Homo sapiens: one gene and its partners. The protein of the gene in region 4 purifies or fractionates together with the protein of the main gene of each other region. This does not show direct contact. Each region holds a gene or a part of one and is shown on either strand. Other genes may lie near its edges. The genes, in order: PDS5B, PDS5A, CIP2A and SLC30A4.

What was found.
Region 1: the proteins of SLC30A4 (region 4) and PDS5B purify together in Homo sapiens (affinity purification with mass spectrometry; 5 studies listed by BioGRID and IntAct, with this or other methods). This does not show direct contact.
Region 2: the proteins of SLC30A4 (region 4) and PDS5A purify together in Homo sapiens (affinity purification with mass spectrometry; 5 studies listed by BioGRID and IntAct, with this or other methods). This does not show direct contact.
Region 3: the proteins of SLC30A4 (region 4) and CIP2A purify together in Homo sapiens (affinity purification with mass spectrometry; 4 studies listed by BioGRID and IntAct, with this or other methods). This does not show direct contact.

Annotation. Positions count from the first base shown.
Region 1 is NC_000013.11:32,764,430-32,771,454, reverse strand, and holds part of PDS5B (sister chromatid cohesion protein PDS5 homolog B), read right to left. Parts: intron 6,967-7,025; coding exon 6,861-6,966; intron 1,335-6,860; coding exon 895-1,334; intron 805-894; coding exon of another isoform or gene 802-804; coding exon 694-801; intron 1-693. UniProt on the Homo sapiens protein: Regulator of sister chromatid cohesion in mitosis which may stabilize cohesin complex association with chromatin. May couple sister chromatid cohesion during mitosis to DNA replication.
Region 2 is NC_000004.12:39,974,908-39,982,559, forward strand, and holds the start of PDS5A (sister chromatid cohesion protein PDS5 homolog A), read right to left. Parts: upstream 3,005-7,652; 5' UTR 2,550-3,004; intron 2,362-2,549; exon of another isoform or gene 2,341-2,361; intron 1,711-2,340; 5' UTR 1,671-1,710; coding exon 1,533-1,670; intron 1-1,532. UniProt on the Homo sapiens protein: Probable regulator of sister chromatid cohesion in mitosis which may stabilize cohesin complex association with chromatin. May couple sister chromatid cohesion during mitosis to DNA replication.
Region 3 is NC_000003.12:108,551,433-108,558,457, forward strand, and holds part of CIP2A (protein CIP2A), read right to left. Parts: intron 5,983-7,025; coding exon 5,786-5,982; intron 3,058-5,785; coding exon 2,944-3,057; intron 2,299-2,943; coding exon 2,216-2,298; intron 942-2,215; coding exon 802-941; intron 1-801.
Region 4 is NC_000015.10:45,484,755-45,491,779, forward strand, and holds part of SLC30A4 (probable proton-coupled zinc antiporter SLC30A4), read right to left. Parts: intron 6,934-7,025; exon of another isoform or gene 6,830-6,933; intron 6,128-6,829; coding exon 5,974-6,127; intron 4,289-5,973; coding exon 4,087-4,288; intron 2,879-4,086; coding exon 2,773-2,878; intron 1,992-2,772; coding exon 1,857-1,991; intron 564-1,856; coding exon 409-563; 3' UTR 1-408. UniProt on the Homo sapiens protein: Probable proton-coupled zinc ion antiporter mediating zinc import from cytoplasm potentially into the endocytic compartment. Controls zinc deposition in milk.

The DNA of each region.
Region 1 (7,025 bases), on a different chromosome or scaffold from region 4:
TCTATTTCCACTCACATAACTAAGGAGAAAAAACACTGTCAGATCTGCAAATTACAGCAGTGATACTCTGGTGACACTAAAATTTGAGGTACAGATTCTTACTGTACCTCTCTTATAAATGTGTTTGTGTGAACATCTAAAACTATATACATGTTGATGTAGATAAATGAACTGGGTTAGAAAACAAACAAAATCAAGATATCAAACACTTGAGACCAACATGTGTTAATTTCTATGGATATAATTTTTAAAAAATGGTACCTGTTACTTTCCTACTACAAGTTCAAAGAATAAAAGCAGAAGCATAAGACCTATTTTCCTTTTTTTAAAGGAAAAGGTGCTAATGAGAAACATTTAAAAAAAAAATTGTAGTGTGGAATGACAAGGCAACCTGGTCAATGTGTGGTGATTATTTAAAAATACCTTATGATTTCTTTAGATATCATAAAGTCTGTATAGGAAATAATATACTATTTGGTATTCATTTATGAAGATTTGCCTGCACCTGTAAAAATGTACAAGATAGTTTATTGAGATATCAATCACTAAGGTAAGTTTATAAAAATTTTATCTTACCTAGTGTAATGGGGCTAAATATATGGAATTTAAATACAGCAATATGTATGTTTACAAATTTAGGAACTTTTGCAAAATAATTTGAAATTGGTTTGAAATGTAATATTTACAACTTACACATTTTTTTTTGGTTGTGATGGTGATGGCGTTTTTGATGGTCTTCCTCGTCCTTTCTGTGGTGTGGACTGTGTGGATTCAATTGCACTAGATTCAGGAGATTCTGCTCTGCTTTGGGGAAGACCCAAATGTGGATAGCATCAAATTATGATTTATAATATAGTAACGAAACAGATGCAGTTTAGAGTTACACATGCTTACCTCTGCTGTGCTCTCCTTGACACTCGGTGCTGTTTGCTTTTGGACTTCTGTTCCGTATTTCCACTTTGTCTTTCTTCTTCTTCCTCCTCCTCTGGTGCTGGAGGTCCAGATTTTTTTTTGCTTCCTTTTTTAGAAGTTTTCATTGTTGGCTCTTCTTTTGGTGTACCTCCACCAAGAGGTTTTGGTGGTCGGCCTCTTTTACCCTTTTTTGGCGGACTATTCTGTTCATCTTCATTTTCTAATATATCTTCTTTGAGCCTCTTTTCCTCAGGCCACTGCTGTTCATCAGATTCTGAAGCCGTATGGCCTCTTTTCCGACTTCGCTGACTGCCTTTAGGTTTCTGTTCCTGTACCAACTTAGTCAAGTCATCCATACCTAATTTCTCCTCCTGTTCTGTGACGGGCGTTTTTTTCCTGCCTCTAGGCTTCTCCAATTCAGACTAGGGGAAAAAAAAAATCACAATTTATGGTTATGAAATTGTGAGTATACATATTTTGAGGAATGAAACAAAAAAATCTGTTATCTAATGTTGTCCTAGATATGTACCTAAAATATACAGCTCTTAAATACACCAGAACTGTATTTATTTGCTTTTATTATAGTTTTTAATTTTAAAAACTTATCTGGGATAAAAGGGTACATTTGCACTCTTACTTTTCAGCTAGAGTGTCTTAAAAGGAAACCTCTCAAGATCAGTATCTTACTAAATTATAAATTTTAGTGAAGAGCTATCTCATTAAAAAGAGCATTATAAATTCAGTGCTTGGTCCTAAATGACAACTATACTAAAGTATCTGTTTGGATAGTCAATTTAAGTAATTCTAATTTTACCACATAGTGCGTAAGACATAAAATATTAACTATATGACATGCTTACAACATCATAAAAGAACTATTATTTTACAAATGGAGGTTGCAAGATACAAAAGGTAAACATATTCATCATTTATTATAAATTTTGGAAACACTTCTGAATTAGAAATACTGCTTCTTTCTAGGTATAACTAACTGATTAACAACAGAAACAACAAAAAACCAGTGGCTTTCACATTTAAAATAAAATCCTAGTCTATATTCAGAGAATCTATATGTGAACCAGCGTGAAGGCTGAAGAAATTCTCCAAAGACCCAAGAATAAATTGTATGTATGAACACTTATAATACAAAGTTAATTTCCAAAAGTCTGCGCAATTTATATTTTCAAAAATCACTGAAAACAACAAAAACTATCGAATTATCTGTAACTTTTTCTAACTTTAAATTGAGCTTCCTGTATGTGAACTGCCTAATTACATCCTTCGTATTGTGTCCTTTGTCAACTTTGACTACTGCGGTGTTAGTGGGTTTTCTCTATATTCCTCTATGCTTTTGTGTATGCCTCTATGCTTATTTTTAAGTGTTATTTCTTTATTATTAATATTATCTTTTATTATTTTTGAGATGGAGTCTCACTCTGTCACCCAGGCTGGAGTGCAGTGGCACCATCTCTGCTCACTGCAAGCTCCGCCTCCCAGGTTCACGCCATTCTCCTGTCTCAGCCTTCTCCCGAGTAGCTGGGACTACAGGTGTCTGCAACCACGCCTGGCTAATTTTTTTTTTTTTTTTTTTTTTTGTATTTTTTTAGTAGAGACGGGGTTTCACCGTGTTAGCCAGGATGGTCTCAATCTCCTGACCTTGTGATCCGCCCGCCTCGGCCTCCCAAAGTGCTGGGATTACAGGCATGAGCCACTGCACCCAGCTTTTTTTTTTTTTCTTTTTTTTTTTTTTGAGACAGAGTCTCGCTCTGTCACCCAGGCTGGAGTGCAGTGGGTCAATCTTGGCTCACTGCAACCTCTGCCTCCCGGGTTCAAGCGATTCTCTTGCCTCAGCCTCCCGAGTAGCTGGGACTAGAGGCATGTGCCACCATGCGTGGCTAATTTTTGTATTTTTAGCAGAGATGGGGTTTTGCCGTGTTGGCCAGGCTGGTTTCAAACTCCTAAACTCAGGTGATCCGCCTGCCTCGGCCTCCCAAAGTGCTGGGATTACAGGTGTCATTGCACCTGTCCTTTAAGTGTTATTTCTTACTTGCTTTGGACTGAATTGTGGCCCCCACCACCAAAGAAAAAAATTGTATGTTCAAGCTCTAATCCCAATGTGACAGTATTTGGAGATGGGGCCTTTGGGAGGTATTTCGTTGAGATGAGGTCATGAGGTGGCACCCTCATGATGAGATTAGTGTCCTTATAAGAGGAAACATCAGTGAGCTTGGGTGCCTTTCTTCTTCCTCCCACCCCACACCTCTCATGTGAGGACACAGGAGAAGGTGGCATCTGTAACCCAGGAAGACAGCCCTCATCAGGAACCAAATCTGCTGGCACCTTGATCTTGTACTTCCAGCCTCCAGAACTGTAAGAAAATATAGTTCTGTTGTTTAAGCTACCCAGTCTGTGGTATTTGGTATTTTATAATGGCAGCTTGAGCTGACTAAGACATTATTGTGTATTGTTTTAGAACAGAATGTGAGATGAGATTCTAAACTGGATTTTCCACTCCCAAAGACACATCCAACCATTTCAGAATCAATGATTTGTAGTGCTTCCTTTATTTTATATGTTTTGAACAAGAATAATATTTCTGGGCTATCATAACAGAAGCACAATATTTTACTAAGTATAATTATGTATCTGGTAGGGCTGAACCTACCTTTATTTCTCCTCCTTTTATATTTATTTATTCCTCCACATAGACTTGAAACAAAACCATGCTGGAATTTTGCAATTATATATTCAGTTGAAAAAAACTTTCATCCTTTTTTATTCCTTTCTCCTATACAAGAACATGGCCTGTCTTCTCTCTCTTCAAGTCTTCCAGTTTTGAGATTTTCTACATATAGGTCCTCCCTATCTCAGTTTTGAGATTTTCTACATATAGGTACTCCCTATTTCTTTTAAAGGTTATATTTAAATCTATGAATCTGTCAATCAGTCAATCTATGTTTGTTGTTGCACTGGTTCTTGTGATGAAGAAAATAATCCCTTTTCCCCTAAATGTACATCTGATACAAACCAAAATTATCAGAGTAATGTTAGTTACAAACATAAATATATACATAGGTAGGGATAGATTTTCAATTGCTTCTTTTATTTTTCTAAGATTACAAAAATAACAATTGGTCAAACATTCTAGAGCAATTTTTAAAAACAGTGGTGACAGCAGGTTGCTTGTTTTGTTCCTGATTTTTAAAAAGAATGCTTCAAGTATTTTGCCTTTAGGAAGAATGGCATTGACTACTGATTTAAAATAGACAAAACTTTTAGCACATTAAAGATGTATCCTTCTGGTACTAGTTTACTAAAAGTTCCTATTTGTCAAGAACGGATCTTAAGTTTTATTTATGTCCTCTTGGCATGATCTGAAATTATTTTGTTTTTGGTTTTCCCTTTGGTTTATTTAATATACTATCATAGTAAAAGATTTGGTAACATTAAGCTATCCTTACATTCTAAGGAGAGGGGAAGATCTATACATGACTGGATTTAGTTTGTTTTATTTATTTAGAGTTTTGTGCACAAATTAAAAATTAACTGTTTTTACTCAAAGATAAGAAGGTAAAAGAAATGTTAAATTAGAACTAAATTTAAAATGTCACTTCTTATTTTAATTACTATAATTCTTTTTGATGTCCAAAGATCTAAAAAGGTAGATGATTTCCTTTAAGCTCTGGAAAAGGTTGGTGGTAAAAAGAAAACCCAATGTCTACTTTCTTGAGAATACTAATCTAGTTTCCTAAAGCACCACTACTTATTTCTTTTTCATTTTGCATTGCACTGTTTTAAGAACAGAGGGAGTATAAAACCGAGGTTAGAAGCAAAAGACAGGAAAATATTTTATTTATAAAGCTAAATATTTAAATACAAACGTATATGGAAAATAATTCCTTTGCTGTGAAATTTCAATGAGAAGCTGGTAACAAGCAAATGAGACCGTGCTCTTTCATTATAATCTACTGGTCTTTAAATTCAACTTGTGTCTCATAATACTCATCTCTCTGAGGGCACTTCAGTCAAAACTAGCTTATTAATAAGATTCTTCTAGCACCTCTAAAACTGGACCTAACGTTACACATTATCCATGCCACAACAAATAGCAAAAGGCCTCCATTACAATCATACTAATAGGTCTCAAGAGCTCAAAAATTCAAAACAGTTCTATGAAAAATAGAGTAGACTTTGTTCTGTACTATCCCAAAAGGTAAAAGCAGATGCAAAATTTATAGGATAACAGAATATTAAGAATTAATAAAAACCATGTTTCCCAACTTTTGGGGGATGGGAACACCAAGGTATAAGTGTAGTACACTATAGGTGTGGGTATGAGTGACCTAGTTGACTTTTCCAACAAATGAAATACATCATGAGCTCTCTGCTTAAAGCATTTTCAACGTGGTGACCAGCTCTCATTAATAATAAAGGAATTTCTGCAGTAAGTGAGAACTAAGAAGACATAATACCTTTTCCAATTCAAGGATTTTCTTCTGTAAATCCAGATAACAAGATTGTTTCCAAGCTAAGTGATCAATTCTTAATTTTGCTCATGTGAAAATTTTAAACAGCCAATAAACATCGTAACTTACAGTATACATAGTTAGAATTCAATAAAATTTTAGAATAATTCTTTCACAGCGGGCAGTATGGCTCAAGCCTGTAATCCCAGCACTTTGGGAGGCCAAGGCAGGCAGATCACCTGACATCAGGCGTTTGAGACCAGCCTGGCCAACATGGTGAAACCCCGCCTTTAAAAAATACAAAAATTGGCTACGCATGCTGGCACATGCCTGTGGTCCCAGTTACCCAGGAGGGTGATGCAAGAGAATCACCTGAACCCGGGAAGCGGAGGTTGCAGTGAGCCCAGATCGTGCCACTGCACTCCAGCCTGGGCGACAAAGTGAGACTGTGTCTCAAAAAACAAAACAAAACAAAACAAAAAAGAATAATTCTTTCTAAATGGAAATAAACACTCTGCCAAAATAAGTTATTGGAGAAACATGAAAATAAACTTCTTGGCATGTGTAATGCTGGACTCGTGGAAGATGGGCAGTAATATTTTAGAGAAAGTAAAAGTAATTATTTCTTGGTTAACCTCTCACCTCTCTTAATCACGTAGATTCGAACATTTTAACTTTTATTATTATGATAACCATAATCAAAAGTCGTAACAATGAAACAGCAGCAGCAATTCATTTTGGCTAAGTCACTTACTCTGATAAAGCTTACCAGCTAAGTATCCATAATTTACATACAGATAAGAAAATTGATTCTGATAGCCTAATTAGTTATTAAGGAAATGATCTGAAGCTGAACTGTAAAGTCAAAACAAACCCAGTTAAGTCCATTGAGTTGTGTTAGAAGACATAACTGTATTTTGTGTCTATGCTAAAACTTAACAAATTTGTCTTAAAACAACACAAACTGTCTATCATACAAGTTATCATTTTATCATTTCTATTAAGATTTAAAAACTGAACAAGGACTTGACGAGAACTATAGCATTTTCTACCTTTAACAGCAGCTTATTTAGTAAAAGGCTCAAGAAATAAATTAAATGAAAGAAGTTTTAAGGGTCCTCATTCCATTCCCCTTCTCTAAGGCTAAGTCTAAATATCCTATGTTAACAAAAACAACAACAACAACAAAACCACAAGCAAATGAGGAAAACAATACAAAAACCAAGCAGTTGAGTATGCAACTGGCAAGTCTAATACCAAAAATCTGAACAATTGAGATTACTTATCACATTGATAAGAAGCACAGATTCTATATACTTAAATTACATAGAGGATAATTATAAACTCAGGTTTGTGGTTAAAACCACTAAAATAAAATAAAATAAAATGTAAATTTGATAGTCATGTTAACTGGTTTCAGTGTAAACATTACTAAGTAAAATTATCATTAATATTATTATAAAATCAATGCAAATATCTCACCCTTACAAGATCAGAGTCGTCTCTCTTGTCACTTTTTTTCCCCGGCAAAGGTGAAGACATTGTGTAATCTTCATTTTCACTGTGATCCATTTCAGAACTATCAAGCCTTTTAATACAGACATTTGTAATTGTTATTACAATCAAATAACCTTACAAGCTTTTTCT
Region 2 (7,652 bases), on a different chromosome or scaffold from region 4:
CGAGACCAAAGTGACCAACATAGTGAAATCCCATCTCTACTAAAAATACAAAAATTAGCTGGGCGTGGTGGCAGGCACCTGTAATCCCAGCTACTAGAGAGGCTGAGGCAGAATTGCTTGAACCCGGGAGGTGGAGGTTGCAGTGGGCCGAGACGCGCCACTGCACTCCAGCCTAGGTGACAGAGCAAGACTCCGTCTCAAAAAAAAAAAAAAAAAAAAAATTTAGCCGGGTGTGGTGGCACACGCTGGTAGTCCCAGCTACTTGGGAGGCTGAGGCAGAATAGCTTGAACCTGGGAAGTGGAGGTTGCAGTGAGCTGAGATCCCGCCGCCGCACACAGATTTGTTTTAATGAAAGGAACTGTTGTCTTATTCCTTCCAAAAAGGCAACAAATTGCAGAACCAAATTAAGAGTCTGAAAACTAAACCACAGGAATATTTTAAATACTGTACTCATTAAAATGCAACATTAGGTACATTTACTGGGCTCCAAGAGCAAGAGGCCAAGCTCATTCCCTAAAATACATTTGGCCAAGTGGCCCAAGGTGGAAACATTGTCAACAATGTTGCTTCCCTCACCTCCCACCAATTCTGATTGATTCTAACTCTGAAAAGTTGTTAAATCATTTCCTAGTCACTATTACCAATGCCATAGCCCTACCTGAAGATTTCAACGTCTTTCACCTAGACTACTGTTTACAGTTTCCTAGCCGGACTCACTGCCTCTGGTCTTCCCCTACTCCAATCTAGCACCAATTGTGACAACCAAAATGTCTCCAGCATTGCCAAACATCTCCTGGAGGTCAAAGTTGCCCTGACTCAGAACCACTGCTTCAAGCTGTTCCTACAAGAAGAATATTACTTATTTGTTAAGATTCTGGCCACAATCTATGTCAGTGGAACAGAAACCAAAAAAACTAACAAACATGAGGTTGAAATTTAAAACCTTAACCTTAGGACTGCCATGCTTAAACAAAATTAGCTGACACCTCATAAAAAGGGCCATAATACTCTTAAACTCCTTTGAACGTATAGACTTAAATCATCTTACTTTAAGCCTGAATTATGAAAAGTCTGTACCTTCTGTCAAAGTTTAACCACCATATATACATATTTAAGCTTCTGGATATAGAAAATTATGCAAATTTTTAAAAAGGACTTTGCGCTTTAATCAATCCCCTTCAGAAGCTGAAAATAGTAAACTTCTTAGGCAAATTACTGCCTACACCTAAGTTTGCAAGCCACTCTGAACAGTATTCTCATTAAATACCTCCAGAAAAAACTCTAAAAACACAAATTCTTATGCTTGAAAACCAGTAAGTTTTTGAAAAATCACACTCCTTTTAAATTTCCCACAATGGTTATATCCCTACAAAACTCACTCAAAGATGTTATCTGAGATACAACAGTACCTTTCAGAGGGGGTAAGAGATCTAAAAAACTTGGAACTTTAAAGGCCAGACTGAGCAGGGTAGCAGTATCACAGGAGAAAGCGCCTTCTACCAAAGACATCAAAATCCGTCCAGACACTTACCTTCAGGCGTTTGATCATCTCGTCCGTGGTGATCTTGTCGGTGATCTCTTTTACCCCCGGAGGGTAAGCGATCTTCCCGTCGGCACTCACGACGCCACAGAGGGCAGTGGCAGGCTTGGGCTGCGCGGTGAAGTCCATCCTGGGGGACAACTTTTGGTTCACAGTCCTCTACCGGCCTCTATCGGTCAGAAAACCAAAGTTCAGCGGGAAAGGGGCGACTTTGTAACCTCTTTTTTCATTTCAAATCTCTCTAATCTGGAAAAGGCCCTGTCTCCCCAGAGGCCGGGGACCCGGCAGCGGCCTCGCCACCCGCTCTTTCCCAGGGATCGAACCCCGCCGGCCCCGCCAACCCGGCCCTGCCAGCCCCAGGCTCACGGGGCTCCTCCGCACCAGCCGCCGTGGCCGCCGAACAGCGCCAGGAGTTTCCCATTCCGCCTTTCACAATGAAATCCACCCCCGAGCACCAGGGTCCGAAGTTTGGCGGCCCCGGGAGGCCGGCAAGGACCCCAAGGCCCCCGCTCGGCGGTGGGGAAGCACCCAGTCCCGCCCGGCCAGTCCCCTCCGGGAAACCAGACCCGAGGCCTATAGGGCTCGGCTTAGGCCGCAAAACTAGGGACCCAGCGGACCCACGCGCAGCGGCGGCTGCCGGGAACAAAACGCCCTTGCCCAGCCGAGCCTCGGACCCGGGGTAGTCCCCGCCGCGCTGCCACCCCTCCCCTGTTCCGCTCCCTCACCCCCGCGGGAGGGGAAAACAAGCCGCCCTCCACCCTCAGCCCCACGCCAGGAAGCGGCTGACGCGCCTCCGCACTTCACATTTTGTTCCTTCAACTTCGGCTGAGGGACCCCAGCTGCTTCTCTGGCCCCCGGCCGCTTGGCGCCTCCGGCACCGCCGAGGCCTTCCCGGCACCCTCGGGCGGCCCCACCGGGCCTCGGACCCGCGGCCCCCCCCTCCAGTCTCCCCTTCCGTCCCCTCCCTCCAGCAGCCTAGGGCGGGAGCCGAGCCGCCGCCGCCTTTACCTCCTCCTCATGCGGGCGGAAGGTGCATCGAGCGCCCGGGCCTCTGTCAGGTGGTTGCGCCGCCGCCCCTAGTCGGGCTGCACACAAAGCGGCTCCGCGGGTCCCGCCGCCGCCGCCGCCGCCGCCCGCCCGCCCGGGAGCGGCGCTGGGGCTGGCGGTGCCGAGGAGGAGCAGCCGCCGCGGGGGGAGACGCGGGGCGAGTGAGCGCTGGGCGGGGAGACAGTGCCGCTCTCCGTCTGGCCGAGGAAGAGCAGCCTCGAAGGCTCCTCCGGGAGTGTGTGCGCTTGTGTCCGTCCGGGACCCCCGCGGCCCGCCCGCACGCACCTCGCGCCGGCCCGGACCGCCGACTCGGACCCGGACGCCCCTCGCAGAGGCGCGCGCCCGGCCGTCCGTGCCCCGGGAGCCGGGGCCTCGCGCACACACCGGCCGGTCACGCGAGCGGCGCGAGAGCACGCGAGAGCAGCGCGCGCTCCTCGCTCCCTCCCCTTCCTCCGCCGGCCGTGCATCCGCCTCCCTCGGGCCCGAGGCGGCCGCGCGCAGGGCGGACAGCGCCGCCACCCGGTTGGCGCCAATACCTGCCGCGCGGGGCGCCTCCCGGAGGACCCGACCGGAGAGGGCGAGAGGAGGAGGAGCCCGGGTGGCGGGAAGCGAGCCCAGGTTCCCGCGGCCTTGCGAGGGCACGCAGGGCAAACAGTGCTTTATCTTTCGCAGCGGCGATGAGCTGGTGACTTTTGGGGGTCATCCTGAGGGACATAGACGAAACTGGTTGGGAGGTAGTTAATTGCTCGGTGAAAATGAACTGATTTCCTCCTCAGGGAGAGATCTGCAAAGTCAAGGAAAGTTGTGCAATGGGGCGCAGCGTGAGCGGCTCACTCTCGGGTCTTCTGACAGCCACCCGAGTTGCCCACCCTCCTTAGATTTCTGAAGTTAATATTTTGAAAGCTGCAAAACATGAAAATAGCATTGGGTCGAGTCGTTCTCAAGGTATGGTCTTTGGGCCACCAGGCCTCACAATCACTTTGGGTACTGGCTGAAAACGTAGGTTTCCAACTCCAAAGATTAAAAAACATAAAAATATATGTTTTTTTAACGTAAAAATATATATGAACATAAAACATATAAAAATATAACATATAAAATAAAACACTAAAAAATATAAAAATATACATAAACATAAAAATCTCTGAGAGTGGAACCCAGAAATAAGCATTTATTAATTGGGTGGGTGATTCTTGTAAATAAGGAAGAGCTCATTTTTTAAAAATGTTTTAAACCTACCAAGCATTAACGTTTTCTGTCATCCAAAGGAAAACCACTATCAGGTAAAAACAGTGCACGCAGCAGTGTTTGAGCAATTTAATGTATGTAATTGAAACAAATTAACGCAAGAACATACACTTACCTATTTAAAAAAAATCAAGAGCATACACAAAATTTCCGAAGAGAAAGTTGAAAAAAGGATACGATAATATGAAATCACATTCAGCTCTTGAAACTGACCACTACCATAGTTTAAAATGATATTCGATTGTTTATTCAAATTATTCTTGATGGGTACCCATTGGTCTATTTTTTTCCCACATCCTTTAACGTCAACTTAAAAATAGTAAAGGTACTGCATTTCAGCTCACTGACTTGTTTTTGACGTATTACACAAGAGCAGTCATTGCGAATCTGACACTCCACAGTTGCTGATTTGCTAGAACTCTGCCCAAAAGTCAATGCTTTGTTCTTGGGCATTTACAGTACCAGGCAGAATCCATTTAAAAGTGTCCTCATCCAAACTATTAAGTGGACCAAAAGCTGCTCTCTTTTTAGGCTCTCCCTGTCACTTTTGATATTTATTTTTTTCTTTTGAGACGGAATCTTACTCTGTCACCCAGGCTGGAGTGCAGTGGCGTGATATCGGCTCACTGCAAGCTCTGCCTCCCGGGTTCACGCCATTCTCCTGCCTCAGTCTTCCGAGTAGCTGGGACTACAGGCGCCCGCCACCACGCCCGGCTAATTTTTTTTTTTTGTATTTTTAGTAGAGACGGGGTTTCACCATGTTAGCCAGGATGGTCTCGATCTCCTGAGCTAGTGATCCGCCCGCCTCGGCCTCCCAGAGTGCTGGGATTACAGGCATGAGCCACCGCGCCCGGCCAAATTTGATATTTCTTTGTGTGTTACATTTAATTAAACAACAATGATTTTATCTTTCATCCTCCTCAGTAGCTTGCCCATTATTAAATGGAGTTTTGTATATGTACATATATTTTATTTTATTTATTTTTTATATTATTTTATTATTTTTTGAGATGAAGTCTCACTTTGTCGCCCAGACTGCAGTGCAGTGGCATGATCTCGGCTCACTACAGCATCCGCCTCCCAGGTTCAAGCGACTTTTGTGCCTCAGGCCCCCAAGTAGTTGGGACTACAGGTGTGTGCCACCATACCGGGCTAATTTTTTTTTGAGACAGAGTCTCCCTCTGTCGCCCAGGCTGGAGTGTGGTGGTGTGATCTTGGCTCACTACAACCTCTGACTTCTGGGTTCAAGCAATTCTCCTGCCTCACCCTCCCAAGTAGCTGGGATTACAGGCGCCCGCCACTATGCCCGGCTAATTTTTGTTATTTTTAGTAGAGACAGGGTTTCACCATGTTGGTCAGGCTGGTCTCAAACTCCTGACCTCAGGTAATCTGCCCGCCTCACCCTCCCAAAGTGCTGGGATTACAGGCTTGAGCCACCGTGCCTGGCCTTACTGGTTGATTTCTTTTTTTTTTTTTTTAACATGGAGTCTCACTCTATCACCAGGCTTGAGTGCAGTGGTGCGATCTCGGTTCACTTCACCTCTGCCTCCCAGGTTCAAGCGATTCATCTGCCTCAGTCTCCCAAGTAGCTGGGACTACAGGCGTACACCACCACGCCCAGCTTATTTTTATATTTTTAGTAGAGATGGAGTTTCACCATATTGGCCAGGCTGATCTCGAATTCCTGACCTCGTGATTTGCCCGCCTCGGCCTCCCAAAGTGCTGGGATTACAGGTGTGAGCCCCTGCGCCTGGCCTATTTTATTTTTTCGAGACGAAGTCTTGCTCTGTTGCCCAGGCTGGAGTGCAGTGGTACAATCTGGGCGCACTGCAACCTACGCCTCCTGGGTTCAAGCAGATCTCCTGCGTCAGCCTCCCAAGATCTGGGACTACAGGCATGCGCCACCACGCCTGGCTAATTTTTGTACTTTTAGTAGAGACAGGGTTTTACCATGTTGGCCAGCCTGGTCTCGAACTCTTGACCTTAGGTGATCCACCCACCTTGGGCTCCCAAAGTGCTGGAATTACAGGCATGAGCCACTGCACCCAACCTCCACCAAGCTTTTCTTCCCCGCTCAGTGCCCAAAACAATGCCTTATATTATAGGCCTCTTTAAATAATTGTTTCACAAATGAAGGCCTGCCCTCCTGGTGGACCTTAATTTGTTTGGGGAGAAATAGACCAAAATAACAATAATACATGTATATGAAAATAAAGTAGGGAAGAGTTGGGCACGGTGGCTCGCACCTGTAATCCCAGCACTTTGGGAGGGGGAGGCAGGCAGACTATTTGAGGTCACGAGTTTCAGACCAGCCTGGCCAGCATGGTGAAACCCCATCTCTATTAAAAAGACAAAAAATTAGACTCAGTGGCTCAGGCACGGTGGCTCAGGACTGTAATCCCAGCACTTTGGGAAGCCGAGGTGGGTGGATCACCTGAGGTCAGGAGTTCCAGACCAGCCTGACCAACATGGTGAAACCCTGTCTCCACTAAAAATACAAAAATTAGGCAGGCGCACTGGCACATGTCTGTAATCCCAGCTACTAAGAAGGCTGAGGCAGGAGAATCGTTTGAACCGGGGAGATGGAGGTTGCAGCGAGCTGAGAAAGCACCACTGCACTCCAGCCTGGGCGACAGAGTGAGACTCCCTGGAGTGAGAGAGAGTACAGATCACATGTAGCCTTTTAGACCTCTGGTAAGACTGTGGCTATCCTCTGATTGAGGTGGGGAACTAATGGACTGTTTTAAGCAAAGAGGTGATATGATGTATGTCCTGAGTTAGGCAATGTTGGTCAAACCACTTAATTCTTCTGTGCCTCATTTTCTTCATCTGTAAAACAAGGATAATGATAGTATCTTCCTCACATGATCATTATGAGGAATACATAACTTAATTTTTTTTTCTGTCGCCCAGGCTGGAGTGCAGTGTTGCAGTCTCGGCTCACTGCAACCTCTGCCTCCCAGGTTCAAGTGATTCTCTTGCCTCAGCTTCCCTAGTAGCTGTGATTACAGGCACGCACCACCATGCCCAGCAATTTTTTGTATTTTTAGTGTGATGGGATTTCACCATGTTGGCCAGGCTGCTCTTGAACTCCCGACCTCAGGTGATCCGCCCGCCTTGGCCTCCCAAAGTGCTAAGATTACAGGTGTGAGCCCCTGCGCCTGGCCATAAGTTAATATTTGTAAAATGCCTAGAATAGTAACTCGCATATACTAAGCTCTACATAATTTTTTTTAATAAAATAAAATAAAAAAATCAAAGAGTTTTATGTGGTTAATAATTGCACAAAGGGGTGGCTTTGTGAGTCTTTATTCTACCTCCCACATAATTTCAATCAGTGTCCCCCTCACACATACATTCAGTTATATAATCTATGTACAAAATTGCGTCCAATGCAATTTGAGGACAAACCCCTAACCCCCAATTTCACTACAGCTCCTTCTATATACAAATTCTAGAGCTCCTGACCAACATGGCAAAACCTCATCTCTACTAATATATATATATATATTTGCATATATATATATATGCAAAAATTAGCCTGGTGGGGTGGCGCACACCTGTAGTCCTAGCTACTTGGGAGGCTGAGGCATCAGAATTGCCTGACTCTGGGAAGCAGGGGTTGCAGTGAGCCGAAATTGCACCACTGCACTCCAGCCTGGGCGACAGAGAAAGACTCCGTCTAAAAAAAAAAAAAAGACCTGAGCACGGTGGCTCACGCCTGTACTCCCAGCACTTTGGGGGGCCGAGGCAGGCAGATAACCTCAGGTCAGGAGTTTGAGACCAGCCTGGCCAACCTGGTGAAACCCCATCTCT
Region 3 (7,025 bases), on a different chromosome or scaffold from region 4:
CAAGACATACTATAAATATTATACTTCAGTTAATTCAATTACATGGTAAGTTTAAAATGAATAATCATTAAACAATATAATACAAATTGAGAATACACTTTCAACTTGTCTTAAGTTAATGCCAGCAGCTGAAATTTTGCAGAAAATACTACACACTACATATTAAAATTACTAATAAGATAATCACATTAAAGCAGAACCAGAAAAACTGTAAATGTGGTACTAAATTTTATGCCTCTTCTGTTACTCAGTAGTAGTAGTAGATCAGTCTTTAATCCTAGTCTGTTCTCATCTTCCTGGTAGTAAACGGGCCAGAAAGTACAATTCATAGCTACCACTCAAGCTATGCAACCATGGTAATATAGAAAGAACCCCGGACTCAGATTCAGAATATATACCTATTGATTCACTTATTAGCTGTGTGACTTTAGTAAGTAACCTCAGACTCAGTTTCTTCAGTTGTAAGTTGAAAATATTTATTAACACATTATATAATATTTGTTAAAGTGAAAATTATACAGCTACCTATATATGACATCAAGTACTGGTAACCCCTTTCTGTATTCTTTGCACACTTGAAAATACCAGGTGCTGACACAAAGTATCTGTTTAATAACTGCTTAACTATTTTAGAAAATACATTATGAAAACCTCATAACAAATGATACTCAAGCTGCTTTGAGATCCTAATATCTTCTAAAAAATTTGCTGAAGAAACAGTACATTCCTTTATCCATATTCACCCTTTTCACAACAGACTTTTTTATTTTACTGCAAATGAGAAATGGAACAGATTCTTACCTTAATGCTCAACTCTTTTCTTATCTGTTCTGTTCTGCTTAATTCTTTTCTAAGGATATCAATGGTTTCTTCCTTATCTTCCCTTTCCTTTTGTAAGGTTTTAATCTTTTCTTCTTGTACTTTTGTTTTTTGATGCAAATCTTAAAAGAAAAAAAAGTCAAGTATTATACTCAGAGGTCTTACACTGACTACTCTGAAATGGTCTAGTAGCTACTGTAAGAGCAAAAGAGAAATAACTAGAACAAGGAAGAGAAACTTCTCTTATGACAGTATTCTATAGAAAATACCAAATCTCCATGTCTTTCTTCCATCCTCTGTTCTAAATATAATATGCTATATAGGTAAAGGACAATTCTCAAAAGTGTAAGGGTTAGAAAAGGGAGAGCTACAACTATGAAAAATTATATAGGTAGGTGCCTGCGCTCTAAGGCAAGTGAGAACAAAAATGTTTTTCAGGATCATTTCAAATATACCATTAAGAAGCTAGTAACTAAAAGTTACCTAATACTGCCACCTGCTGTTACGTTCCTTCAACATTTTTTTATTTTGAAAAGGGCAATCCATAATCCTATGTGATTTAACGAAGGAACAGAAAACCAAATACTCCAAGTTTTCACTTCTAAGTGGGAACTAAACATTGAGTACACACAGACTTAAAGATGGAACCAATAGACACTGCAGACTAGAGTTGGCAGGAGGTTGAAAATTACCTATTGCTACCTATTTGGTACTATGCTTACTACCTGGGTGATGAGATCCATACCCCAAACATCCGTGTCATGCAATATACCCAGTGTAACAGACCTGCACACATGCCCCCTGATTCTAAAAGTTGAAATAATAAAAAAATTAAATTAAATTAAATGGTCAATCATCTCTTTCCTTTTGTTTTTTTTTTTTTTTTTTTTTTTTTTGAGACAGTCTTGCTTTGTCACCCAGGTTGGAGTGCAGTGGCGTGAACATAGCTCACTGCAGCCTTGACATCCAGGTTCAAGAGATTCTCCCACTGTAGCTTCCTGAGTAGCTGGAACTACAGGTGCACACTAACACACCTGGCTAAATTTTTGTATTTTTTGTAGAGATGGGGTTTCACCATGTTGCTCAGGCTGGTCTCAAACTCCTGAGCTCAAGCAATCTACCCATCTCCAACTCCCAAAGTGCTGGGATTACAGGAGTGAGCCACTGTGCCTGGCCAATTTCTTATAGCTCCTAAATTTAAAAAACGTACCACTTTTTCAACTTGATTAAACCGAACTGCTTTTGTGAAACATTATGTCAAGAAAAGGGAAGCCATTCCAAATATGATTTAAAGTTTAAAACAATAAGTAGAAAATAAAAAAGCAAACAAAACCACTCATGCTTCCAAAATAAATACATTAAAAATAGAAAATGTATTAAATAAGAAGCCACTTACTTGCTAGCTTATGTTCTCTGTCTACTAGCTGATTCTGTACTTCTTTTCTCTGTTCTTCTTTCTCTATTAATTGGGCAATACTTCTGAAGTTATTAAAAAAAATAGAAGAAAACATTAATGAACCATATACCATTTGTAACTTTTTCTCCCTACCAAGCACTTTGGGAGGCCAAGGCGGGCAGATCACAAGGTCAGGAGATCGAGACCATCCTGGCTAACATGGTGAAACCCCGTCTCTACTAAAAATATAAAAAAAAAAAAAAAAAAAAAAAGGTCTCGTTCTGTCACCCAGGCTGGAGTGCAGTGGCATGATCTTGTGCTCACTGCAACCTCTGCCTCCCGGGCTCAAGTGATTCTCCTGCCTCAGCCTTCTGGGTAGCGGAGATTACAGGCACCCGCCACAACACCCAGCTAATTTTTGTATTTTCAGTATTTACAGAGTTTCGCCATGTTGGCCACGCTGGTCTCAAACTCCTGACCTCATGCGCTCCACCCACCTCAGCCTCCCAAAGTGCTGGGATTATAGGCGTGAGCTACCATGCCCAGCCTTTAAAACAAAATTTCTAAGAACAGCAATTGCCTGTAACTTCCACCAAATACATATCTTATATCTAAAATAAGTGACAATTCTATTAATTTTATCAATAAAAAACAATGTTCTATATAAAGGGAATCATTTTGTTTTTGAAAAATCCCACATATTCAGAATATAGAACTAGAGATTTTACTTTTCATTTTGTTCCTTGAGTGACTCATTCAACTTTTTCACTGTCTCAATTTGTTTATTCAGAGAATCACATGTGATCTGTAAATCTTTATTCTTCTTTTCAGTACTTTCATTTCTGAAAAGACAAGAAAATGAGTTGGCATCATTATGGAGGAAAACATATGAAGGAGAAAAGAAGCTCACAGTGTTTTCTTTACTATCTCTTCTAACCAAATTGCATATGCTGGAAGAGAAGGAATGTTATGAACAAGCAGGACATAAACAGAATTTCATCTACTCTAAAAGGCAGTAAATACATGTTTTGGTTGACTGATGTGGTAAAAATTACTATGAAATAGAAATGTGTGGGGCATTAATCTCATATTTATGGATATAAAGCCTTATTTTACAGATGATATTGCATTACATAATTTGCTATAAATAAGTTTAGGGTTCTACATTTGTCTCTTTAAAACTCTGCATCTAATAGTCCTAAGTATTTTACCTGCAAGGTAAACACAGAAAAAAATCCTTTCTAAAGTAATACTTTGATACTCAACTACCATAAGCATAAAATGTCTTTTTTATTTCACTAAGCACAAAGATTTTTAAAAAGCAACCCAAAAACCAAACCAAAACAAACAAAAAAAACCAGTAGCCAAACTTGGCCAGCAGTTTTTGTATCTAATCCATACAGGAATTTTAACAATCTGAGTTTGAGTGCCTTTAGACAGTCCTGACCATTACAAATGACCTTTTCCCCAGCCAGCTTCATTTACATGTTATCCACTTGTCCATTCAAGGAATTTCACCTTCTAGCCCCTAAATCACTAGCTGGAACATAAGCAGGTCTTAGAAACCACGTATTTTTCTTGGACGCTGCCTATCTCTTAGGTTCTCTATGTGAGACAAAGCAGGTATCCCCTTTTTAGGAGGTCTGAGGACCTCAAGCTGGAAAATAAAGGAAAATCCTGAGTTCACTCAAGGGAAATTCCAGGGACCTAGATAGCCCTAGAAGTAAATAAGTAACTTGTTAAACAGGAAGGTAATAGTAGCCTAAATCAAAGTTAACAAACTTAAGAGTACCAGTGATACTTGATTCTTTATAGAACTTAAAGAAAACAACTTAACACATGTCCCTGAGTTGTATTTCAGAGACCCGGACCCTCATTGAGGAAGCCCACTGACCAGATCCATTGACAAGTAGAGCTCAGGTAAGGAGAAAATGAAGGCTGAATTTTAACCACTGTTCTTTGTTCTAAGTTTCTTTCTCAGGGTCTTGAACAAAGTCACTCTCCCTAGCTAGTTAACATTTTTCTACTGACCCCAAATGTTTAAACAAAGCTGCTCTTCCTTAACCAACTGCAAATCGAAAAATCTTTGGGTCTACCCATGACCTGTAAGCCCCTGCTTCACAATATCCTGTCCTTTAAACTTAAACCAATGTATAACCTTTAACTATTTATTTATGATTTTTGTCTGTAACTTCCACTTTCCTGAAATTTACTCGCCTTTAAAAATCCTTGCTTGCAAGCTATTGGGGAGGTCAGTATTTGAGCATTTGGCTGCCTGCTCCTCCTTACTTGGCACCCTGCAGTAAAAGCCTTTTTTTCTATCACTGCAAACCTTGGTGCAGATACCTGGTTTTACTGTATTGAGCAAATGGAACCCATTTCAGTTCTATAACGTATTTTCTTCACTGCTGACGTTCTCAACTTGGCTTATCACTAATACTACACTTTATCAGTGGTGCCTCAAACAATCAGACTTTGTAAAAAGTTGCTGGGGTAAATATCCTGTTAAAAAATCACTTTGTCATCATTTTCTAGATACTATTCATTTCTCACCCTTCATTATTATTGATGGGAAATAAGCATATGTACCATGCCAAGCTAAAAATTTCTATATCTCTGTATTAACAACATAGAACAATCTTAAAATATAAAGCAATAAACAAGTTCCCCCAGAGTGTATTTACTTTTATGGGTTGGTAGAAAATACATAATTGTTCCTGGTCTTCCCTGTAATTCAGAAGTTTTACAACTGGCCTAAAAAGATAAAAGAGTTTATAAGGGAGGAAAAACCAATCAAACTTTGCTAGTAGGCACACAAATTGGTACAGGTTGAGCAACACTAATTTGAAAATCCAAAATCAGTCTAAAATCAAAAGTGCTCCAAAATATTAAACTTTTTGAGTGCTACCATTGTGTTCAAAAAGGACACTCAATCTGTATCACATTTTGGAGGAAAATTTAGAAATATCTATCAAAATATTAAATATACATACCCTTTAACTTAGCAATTCACCTATGTGAACTTATTCTACAGATGTAATCACACATGGAAGTAAACTATAATCAAGGATATTAAGAGATGAGTTAAACACTTACACCTAAATTTCCATTCTATTAGGCAGAATGATATGAAATTGCCAATATTCAACTACTTTTGATCTGCAGAAATGACCATTCAACCTAATACTAATTTGACAACTAAGTTTATTTAAAAATTATTAATGAAGTGCCTAACTATGCAGCAAGCACTCCTACAGGCCCTAGGGATCTGTCAGTGATCAAAACAGACAAACTTGTCCTTGTGGAGCTTATCTCCCAAATGACTGCTGACTGTTATGAATACATAAAAGAAGTCAACTGGAAAGACCTGTATTTTGTTTCCAACATTGATACTGAGTTTGAGGAAGCAACACTTCATTTCACAATGACTTAAGTTTCTTGCTAATTACTTACCTCATGTGTTATCAGAATATATGAAATGCTTACAAAAGGATTTTCGGGTCTCAGAAAAGAAATGCTGCATGTTCATTCTAGGTTCTAACCTTACACAGAAGATTTTACTTTATTTACCTCTGAAGAAGTTCCATGTAGGATTTTGTCAGTATTTCATGTTCTTCAGCCACAGACTCTAACTTCCTATTATGTTGAAAGAGATGCTCAATATCACTCTGCGCTCTTTCTGATTCAACTTGCTGCGCCTTCAGCAACACACTAAGCTCTTCATTTTTTCTCTCAACTTCTCTCAACATACTAGCAAGTGTCCGTGCCTCAAAAAAAAAAAGAAGATAGACTTTACCACTATCATCTATATCATATGCTCAACACATACCTACAATTTAAAAGTTTACTAAGTATCTAATAAGCTGGTATCTGTTGGGTCATGCAAAGCTGTATTAGTCACATATACTTAGGACTTTACTTCTAATAAGTTGGATACTGTTATATTTTTTTAACTTAATACATTATCTGATAAAAACAATCTCACTATGATCAAATTAATGGAAATGGATACAACTGCAGCAACATGAAGGTCGCGCTACATACAGTATTCAATTAAAAAGGTATGGTCCTCAGAGGTAGCCATTAACACTAAACTGCTAAGTGTGCACACCATCAGCATTCTCATTTCAGGTGAGAATTAAGAACAAAATCTTAACGACATCACAGATGCTTAATCAAACACTTAAAATTAAGCTAGTATAATCAAAGAATGTAACCTATACCATAACCTGCATGTATTTATTATGTGATATGAAACACTAAAAAAGCAGAAAAGTCGCTAGAATAAAAAGTTGGTTCCCCCCAGCCCTTTGGATTTTATTTTACAATGCTAGACAAAACCCTAAGCCTTTCTCTGTTTTTACGACTTTGTGAAGAACCTGTATCCAGTTATTTAGTGCTATTTTTATAAGAACTTTTCCAGTAACATGAATAAAATATTAAACTCTCTAATAAAATACAAGACATGTCCAACAGACAGAAAATATAAGAATGTGCTATGGGGAGAGGGAAAAATTATTTTAATATCACTAATGTTCTTTCTTGTAATTTGTGACAAATTCAACATACCAGTTAAGACAAATGAAACCATGTTAAAATAAGCAAAAAAGAAAGAAATATGGGGGAAAAAAAGAATACCATTATTCTGAAGAGACTTAAGAGGCATTTTACTAGTCACTTATTTTGATGCATCTTTCAAAAGCCAGGAACACTTTATTATAATTCATTCATTATAAATAATATCAAGTTGTATAGATTCCATTTGTATCTGCTGGGAATTTCATATTACTGCAGTAAGTTCACTCTTAAG
Region 4 (7,025 bases):
TATACATAATAAAAAAAATTCAGTTTTCCAGCACTGGCTTAATATAAAATGGCCTTAAAAAGTATTTTTAAATGCAAATATTGAATTCTTGATGCTTCCTTTAAGACACGTACTCTGTCAAGTTAATGAAGTATGATCTTGGATTGTCTTCTATGAGGTATCTGTAGAGTCACATCTCATTCTGTAAACAGTGTTTGGGAAACATCTTCATCTGAAAATTATGGCAAAGTCTCCTTTTACCATTAAACAGAGACTAGCACTGTCAGGCTGGGGCAACTGTTTGAGAGACTGATGCTTGATACGGACACAGCTGTCAGGGATTCCATTTTCTCATTTAGGTTTGCATTTATTGCTCTCAAGTCTGTGACTGCAGGATAAATAAGGCAGGAGTTCCCAAAATACATAAAATTAGGGACTAGAACTCTGACAATTTGCACAAGTTCTGTCCACTTCTTGCCTGTAACTCTGAAGCTGAATAGTACATCTATACATGCCAAATGTGTTCAATAATAAATGGTTTGCTTTGGACTGTACTTCCTCCCATTTAGATGAACTTCCAGGAACTGCAATGTCAAGAAAATATCATTACTATCCATTGTACAGTTACATCTTGAATAAGATACAGGGAAAAAAACAACTGAAATATACTGGGAATATATTTTTATTAGTCTGATTTCTACCCTCTCTAAGCTATTCTGTTAGATAAGTAGGTCAATTTACACATCCTTAATGGCTTCTCATTATTCTAACCTCTCCAGTCTACTCTCAGGTAGAGAAAAAATACCAGACATCAGTTACAAACCTGTCATTAAAATATCTTGTGCACATTAAAAGTAAACCTCATGCATGTATTATTTTGATTTAAAAAGCATCAATAGCATCAATCTGTGAAATGACTTGAAGAAATAAAAATGTAAGAATCTAGCTTTTCCTATGTAGAAAAGAGCATGGGAAATATTCTTTCTTTTTTTTTTTTTTTTAAGATGGAGTTTCGCTCTTGTTGCCCAGGCTGGAGTACAATGGCGCCATCTTGGCTTACTGTAGCCTCTGTGTCCTGAGTGCAAGCAATTCTCCTGCCTCAGCCTCCCGAGTAGCTGGGATTACAGGCACGTGTCACCACGACTGGCTAATTTTTGTATTTTTTAGTAGAGATGGGGTTTCATCATGTTGGCCAGGCTGTTCTTGAACTCCTGACCTCAGGTGATCCACCCACCTTGGCCTCCCAAAGTGTTGGGATTACAGGCGTGAGTCAACGCGCCAGGCCGGGAAATATTCTTTTTTTTTCCGAGATGGAGTCTTGCTCTGTCACCCAGACTAGACTGCAGTGGCGCAATCTCGGCTCACTGCAACCTCCGCTTCATGAGTTCAGGCAATTCTCCTGCCTCAGCCTCCCAAGTAGCTGGGATTACAGGCATGCACCACCACGCCTAGCTAATTTTTGTATTTTTAGTAGAGACGGGGTTTCACCATGTTGGCCAGGCTGGTCTCAAACTCCTGACCTCAGGTGATCCACCCGCCTCAGCCTTCCAAAGTGCTAGGATTACAGGTGCGAGCCACCATGCCAGTCAGGAAATATTCTTAATACCTTTAATCTGAAGGTTAAAATCAGTTTGTAATATCTCAAAGAGATAGAAAATTATTGTTCTGGTATCAATACTGACCTGCAACTTACCCTTTAAAGAGCCTTTTGTTTAAGGCTGTTAACAAAAGCCTTTGTTTTTTAAAGACAAAGGCTTTTGTCTTAAAACAAATCTTTTCAGCAGAAAAGTCTTCCTACATAATTATAAGCAGGGATGTTTAGTTTCAAAGGCAGAAGTCCACCAACCCCAGGCCCACATTTACTACCAGCAACATACTTAGCTGTATGTGAACTATGGCAGTAGATTTTCCTGAAGTGAGAGACCAGATATTTAAATCTTCGACTGAATATACATCTTCTATTTTCATCAAGGCTTCTTTGATATAGTCTACATTCAAATGGCTTGGCACACCTATTAGGAATATATAATTTCTAAGTAAAATTTATTTTGGAAATAAAGGAACTTTTACATTACCGATGACATTTATCAAAGAAAACAAATGGCTTTGCTAAATTCACTTTAAACAAATACTTTAAAATATTAATACTTCAAGATAAACCATGTACACATATATTTTTATTAAAAATGTAAGATATATACAAGAGGGTAATACATACTTTAAAAACATATTCATTCTCACTAAAAAGGAATGCCAATCAAACCAGAATACTTCATTAACAGATAAACTAAGAAAAAAAAAAGGAAAAAAGAAAAGAAAAGAACATATAATGATAATAAGCCTATTGTTAAGAACTTTTATTTTCATGCTTACACATAATATCAGTAAGGGAAGAATGCAGTAAATACAACAAAGTCACAAGTTAAGTGGGAATTAAGGAATTAATACATAATCTAGAATTGCATTTTTGTCCTAGTGCCACAGTTTATTAGCAACATGACCTTAACCAAAGTATGTTATCCCTCTGAACCTCAATTTTCTTATTTGTAAATGGGGATAATTTACCACATTATCTGCCTTACCTACTTTGCTTAGCTATTATAAGTGTCAAATGGGTAAAAGATGGGAGAGTTCATTAATTCTTACATGTTACATACATGTAAGGTACTGTTATATAGCCTAAAAGGTATTAGTAAAAAGCAAAAGATGTAATTCCTATTCAGAATGTCCCCTGACTCCCAATCTGCTTTAGGGAAGTAATAAACTCATAATGAGGATATAGTGAGATCTTACCTTCTAGTATTATAACTACTGTATCCCATATGATTCGAAATGTTGTAAAAGCCACAAGTAATGAAAATACGTATGTACAGATGGGGTCAGCAATCTTGTATTCTGGCTAAAGGGTAATAGATCAAAATTTATGATTAAATAGACAAATATAAAACAGACTGCAAAGCAAAGCAAGGAATATGTCCCTTCTTGCTTGATTTTCTTTAGCAGAATTACAGAATACCTTTAAAACTTGGATATTGTAATTGAAAAGCATCTTCACTCTATCCTAGACAGTTTACGTTACTTGCCTCATGGGACCTATTTCCAGAAATGTAATCACTTGTTCTATTGTTCCTTGTGCCATCTCTAAATGTTCTAGAATATCAGAGCTGGAAAGAAGTAAGTGTGTGTGTGTGTGTGTGTGTGTGTGTGTGTGTCAAAGCTGGAAAAAAGTGTGTGTGTGTGTGTGTGTGTGTGTGTGTGTGTGTGTGTGTTGCCCAGGTTGCTCTTGAACTCCTGGGCTCAACTGATCCTCCAGCCTCAGCTGGGATTATAGGCACAGCCACTGTACTCAGCTCTGGAAAAAGTTTTAGCAGCCACTAGTTTAAGCCCCTTGTAATAAAGAAGAGGGAACTCAAGTTTAGAGTTCAGGTATTTGCTTTCAAGGTCAAAGCATTAATGGCAGAGCCAAGACTAGAACCCACTCAGATCTCTGGATTTTCAGTCCAGTGCACATTTTACTACCTAGTAATTCAATCACGAGTTTTAAAATTGAGTTATCTGGGCAATCATGGTGGCTCATGCCCGTAATCTCAGCACTATGGGAGGCTGAGGTGGGTGGATCACTTGAGGCCAGGAATTCGAGACCAGCCTGGCCAACATGGCGAAACCTTGTCTCTACTAAAAATACAAAAATTAGCTGGGCATGGTGGTGTGTACCTGTAATCCCAGCTACTTGGGAGGCTGGGGCATGACAATCACTTGAGCCTGGGAGGCGGAGGCTGCAGTAAGCCAAGATTGTGCCACTGCATTCCAGCCTGGGCGAGAAAGTGAGACTCTGTCTCAAAAATAAATAAATAAATAAATAAATAAGAAAATTGATTTATCCAGTGAAGGCACTACAAAAGCCAAATACAGATAAGTTACCCTGTGACGTGATATCATTTTGTTTACTGCTAACAAAAGAACTATAATGATTGTCAAGTAAACTTACATCAATGTAAAATGAATAGAACTGGCACTGGTGTCCAGTATACTGATATGACAATCAGCCTTAGTTTTCATGTTGAAATTAAGTACATTTTAAAATAGAAAAATTACCAATCATATTACCTTGAATCGTATGATGTATGCAGCTATTAGCACACCAACACTCTGTACCAAATCTCCCAAAGCATGTACAAATGCAGCTCTCACTGCCAGGCTATCCTGCCCATGGTTACGTTCACACCCAGAACCTCTGGTAGGGGAATTTGAAGGCAGGGAGTGGGAATGGGAGTGACGGTGACCAGACTGGTTCAACAGAAACCCCATTCTGTTAAAAATAAAAGAAAACATTATTATTTTTCCCAATATTGACAAAAACATTTGTCACTAGTCAGACACTAATGAGGTAACATGGAACTCATTTATTTAATAAATTTGGAGCAACTATTATTTATCAGTACTGTTCTAGGTACTTGGGTCAAAACAGTGGTAAGATAGACATATCCCTACCCCCATGGAGCTTATGTTCTAGTAGAGAAGGCAGAGAAGCCAACAAATAAGTACATAAGGTATAGCCAGGCAATGTGAAATGCTTTGGAGAAACATAAAGCATTGTAAGGGGATGGAGGATGATGGGCAGAGTGGTAAGGGAAGGCCTCTCAGATTTTCTCTAAGCAGATACCTGAAGGAGGTCAGAGAGCAAGTGGTGGAAGAGTGTTCTAGGCGGAAGAATAGCAGAGCAAAGGCCCCAACATGAAAATGTGCTCTGTGTACTTGAAAAAAGAAAGCAGCCACTGTGGGCCAGAATAAAGTGAGCAAAAGTGCTAGGAGATGAGTGGTAGAGGTACACAGAGTCTTACTAACAAGGCTGCAGTAAAAATTTGATTACATTCAGGGACTGTTGTGGGGTGGGGGGAGGGGGGAGGGATAGCATTAGGAGATATACCTAATGCTAAATGACGAGTTAATGGGTACAGCACACCAACATGGCACATGTATACATATGTAACAAACCTGCACGTTGTGCACATGTACCCTAAAACTTAAAGTATAATAATAATAAAATTTAGAAAAAAATTCATTTCATTCTAAGTACAAATAGAAGCCACTAGGGCAGGGATTGGTAAACTGTGGCTGGTAGATCATATTTGGCTCACTGATTTTTTTTTTGTACATAAAGTTTTATTGGAACACAGCCATGTTCATTTGTTTACATGCTAAGTGTGGCTGCTTTTGTTTTATAACAAGTGTTGAGTAGCTTTGAAAGAGAATATATAGATCTCAAAGCTTAAAATATTTACTATCTAGCCTTTTACAGAAAAAAAATTGCTGACTCTGGTCTAAATGATTAAATCTGTTAACTTCAACTTTATTATTTTTTGTTTGTTTGTTTTTAAGACAGGGTTTTGCTCTGTTGCCCAGGCTGGAGTGCAGTGGCCCAATCATAGCTCAATGCAGTCTTGATTGCCTGTGCTCAAGTGACCTTCCCACTTTAGCCTCCCAAGTGGCTGGGACCATAGGCACGAGCCACCGTGCCTGGCTAATTTTTATTTTTAGAAGAGATGAGGTCTCACTATGTTGGCCAGGCTGTCTTGAACTCTAGAGCGCAAGTGATCTTCCCACCTTGGCCTCCCAAATTGTTGGGACTATAGGTGTGAACCACTGTATGTGGCCTAACTTAAACTTTCAAAACTTTCTTCCCTAAAAAGTTTTAAGGGAAAAAAATTGATAGCTTAAGAAAAAAAATCTAGTTAACACAAAAGTATTCTAAAAGTTAAACAAGAACAAAAAACTTTGTCCTACTTAAATTCATGATTTTGACTCAATCTCCAATATACCTGGGCAAACTAATGAGGAATTTATAACGTCCATAGTGTTTCATTTATCAGAAAAGTTAATGAGTTATATCATTTTTAAAATATCAAAATATCACTGAATATTACTGAATGCATATGCAATAGTCTCTGAGTTCACAGTACTTGAAAATATTAATGTGAAAAAAATAGAGCTTACATTACATTAACTGCAACTCCAACAGCTGCGGTGATGAGCATTATATCTCCATTTATTTCATAGTTCATATGGATAGTTCTTTGCACAGCTTCATATAAGAGGAATCCCATAAGTATATACACCAACAGCACACTAATCATAGCTGACAAAACCTCTAGAGGGAAAAACACATATAACAAATACATTTTCAGCATGGTTACTACACTTCATACCAACTAAATATTATATAGTCTTTTTTATATTCTTTCCTCTAAGGAGATAAAAGCCCTCTATTGTTTCTGTCACGTCATTTTTCTTATTTATTTTTTTGAGACAGGGTCTCACTCTGTCACCCAGGCTGGAATGTAGTGGCCTGATCATGCATGGTTCACTGCAGCCTTGATCTCCCAGGCTCAAGTGATCCTCCCATCTCAGCCTCCAAGTAGCTGGTACTATAGGCACATGCCACCACACCTGGCTAATCATTTTTCTTATTTAAAATGTGTTTAGCACTTACAGAAAAAAAAAGTGGTTAGCAGCTTGACTGATATGGATCCTCCACTAATTTACCCTTACCTCTCCCTACCCTCCACTCCTCTCTCTCCAGGGTCAAATTATGTATATTTACAGACCATGCACAAGGTAGAAAATGACAAAATGAGAAAAAATATTTGTCACGTATGTGATCACAGACTAATTTCTTGATAGAAAAAAGTACACTCAAAAGTCAGTAACAGGTAAGGTGTGGTGGCTCATGCCTGTAATCCTCCAACACTTTGGGAGGCTGAGACGGAAGGATCACTTGAGCCCATGAGTTTGAGATCAGCCTAGGCAACATAGTGAGACTCCGTCTCTCTTGGTTTTTCCCTTCCCTTCATGTCAAATGGGTAATGTGCCAACGTTGTAACAAGGTTCCAGGGTGGCACGTCTCACACATGTATGTGAACACCTAATTATCAAGCTCATGAACTACAAGAGGATCAAGACTCTATCTCTAAAAAACACATTAAAAATTAGCTGGACATGGTGGTGAGCACCTATGGTCCCAGCTACTCAGGAGGCTGAGGTGGGAG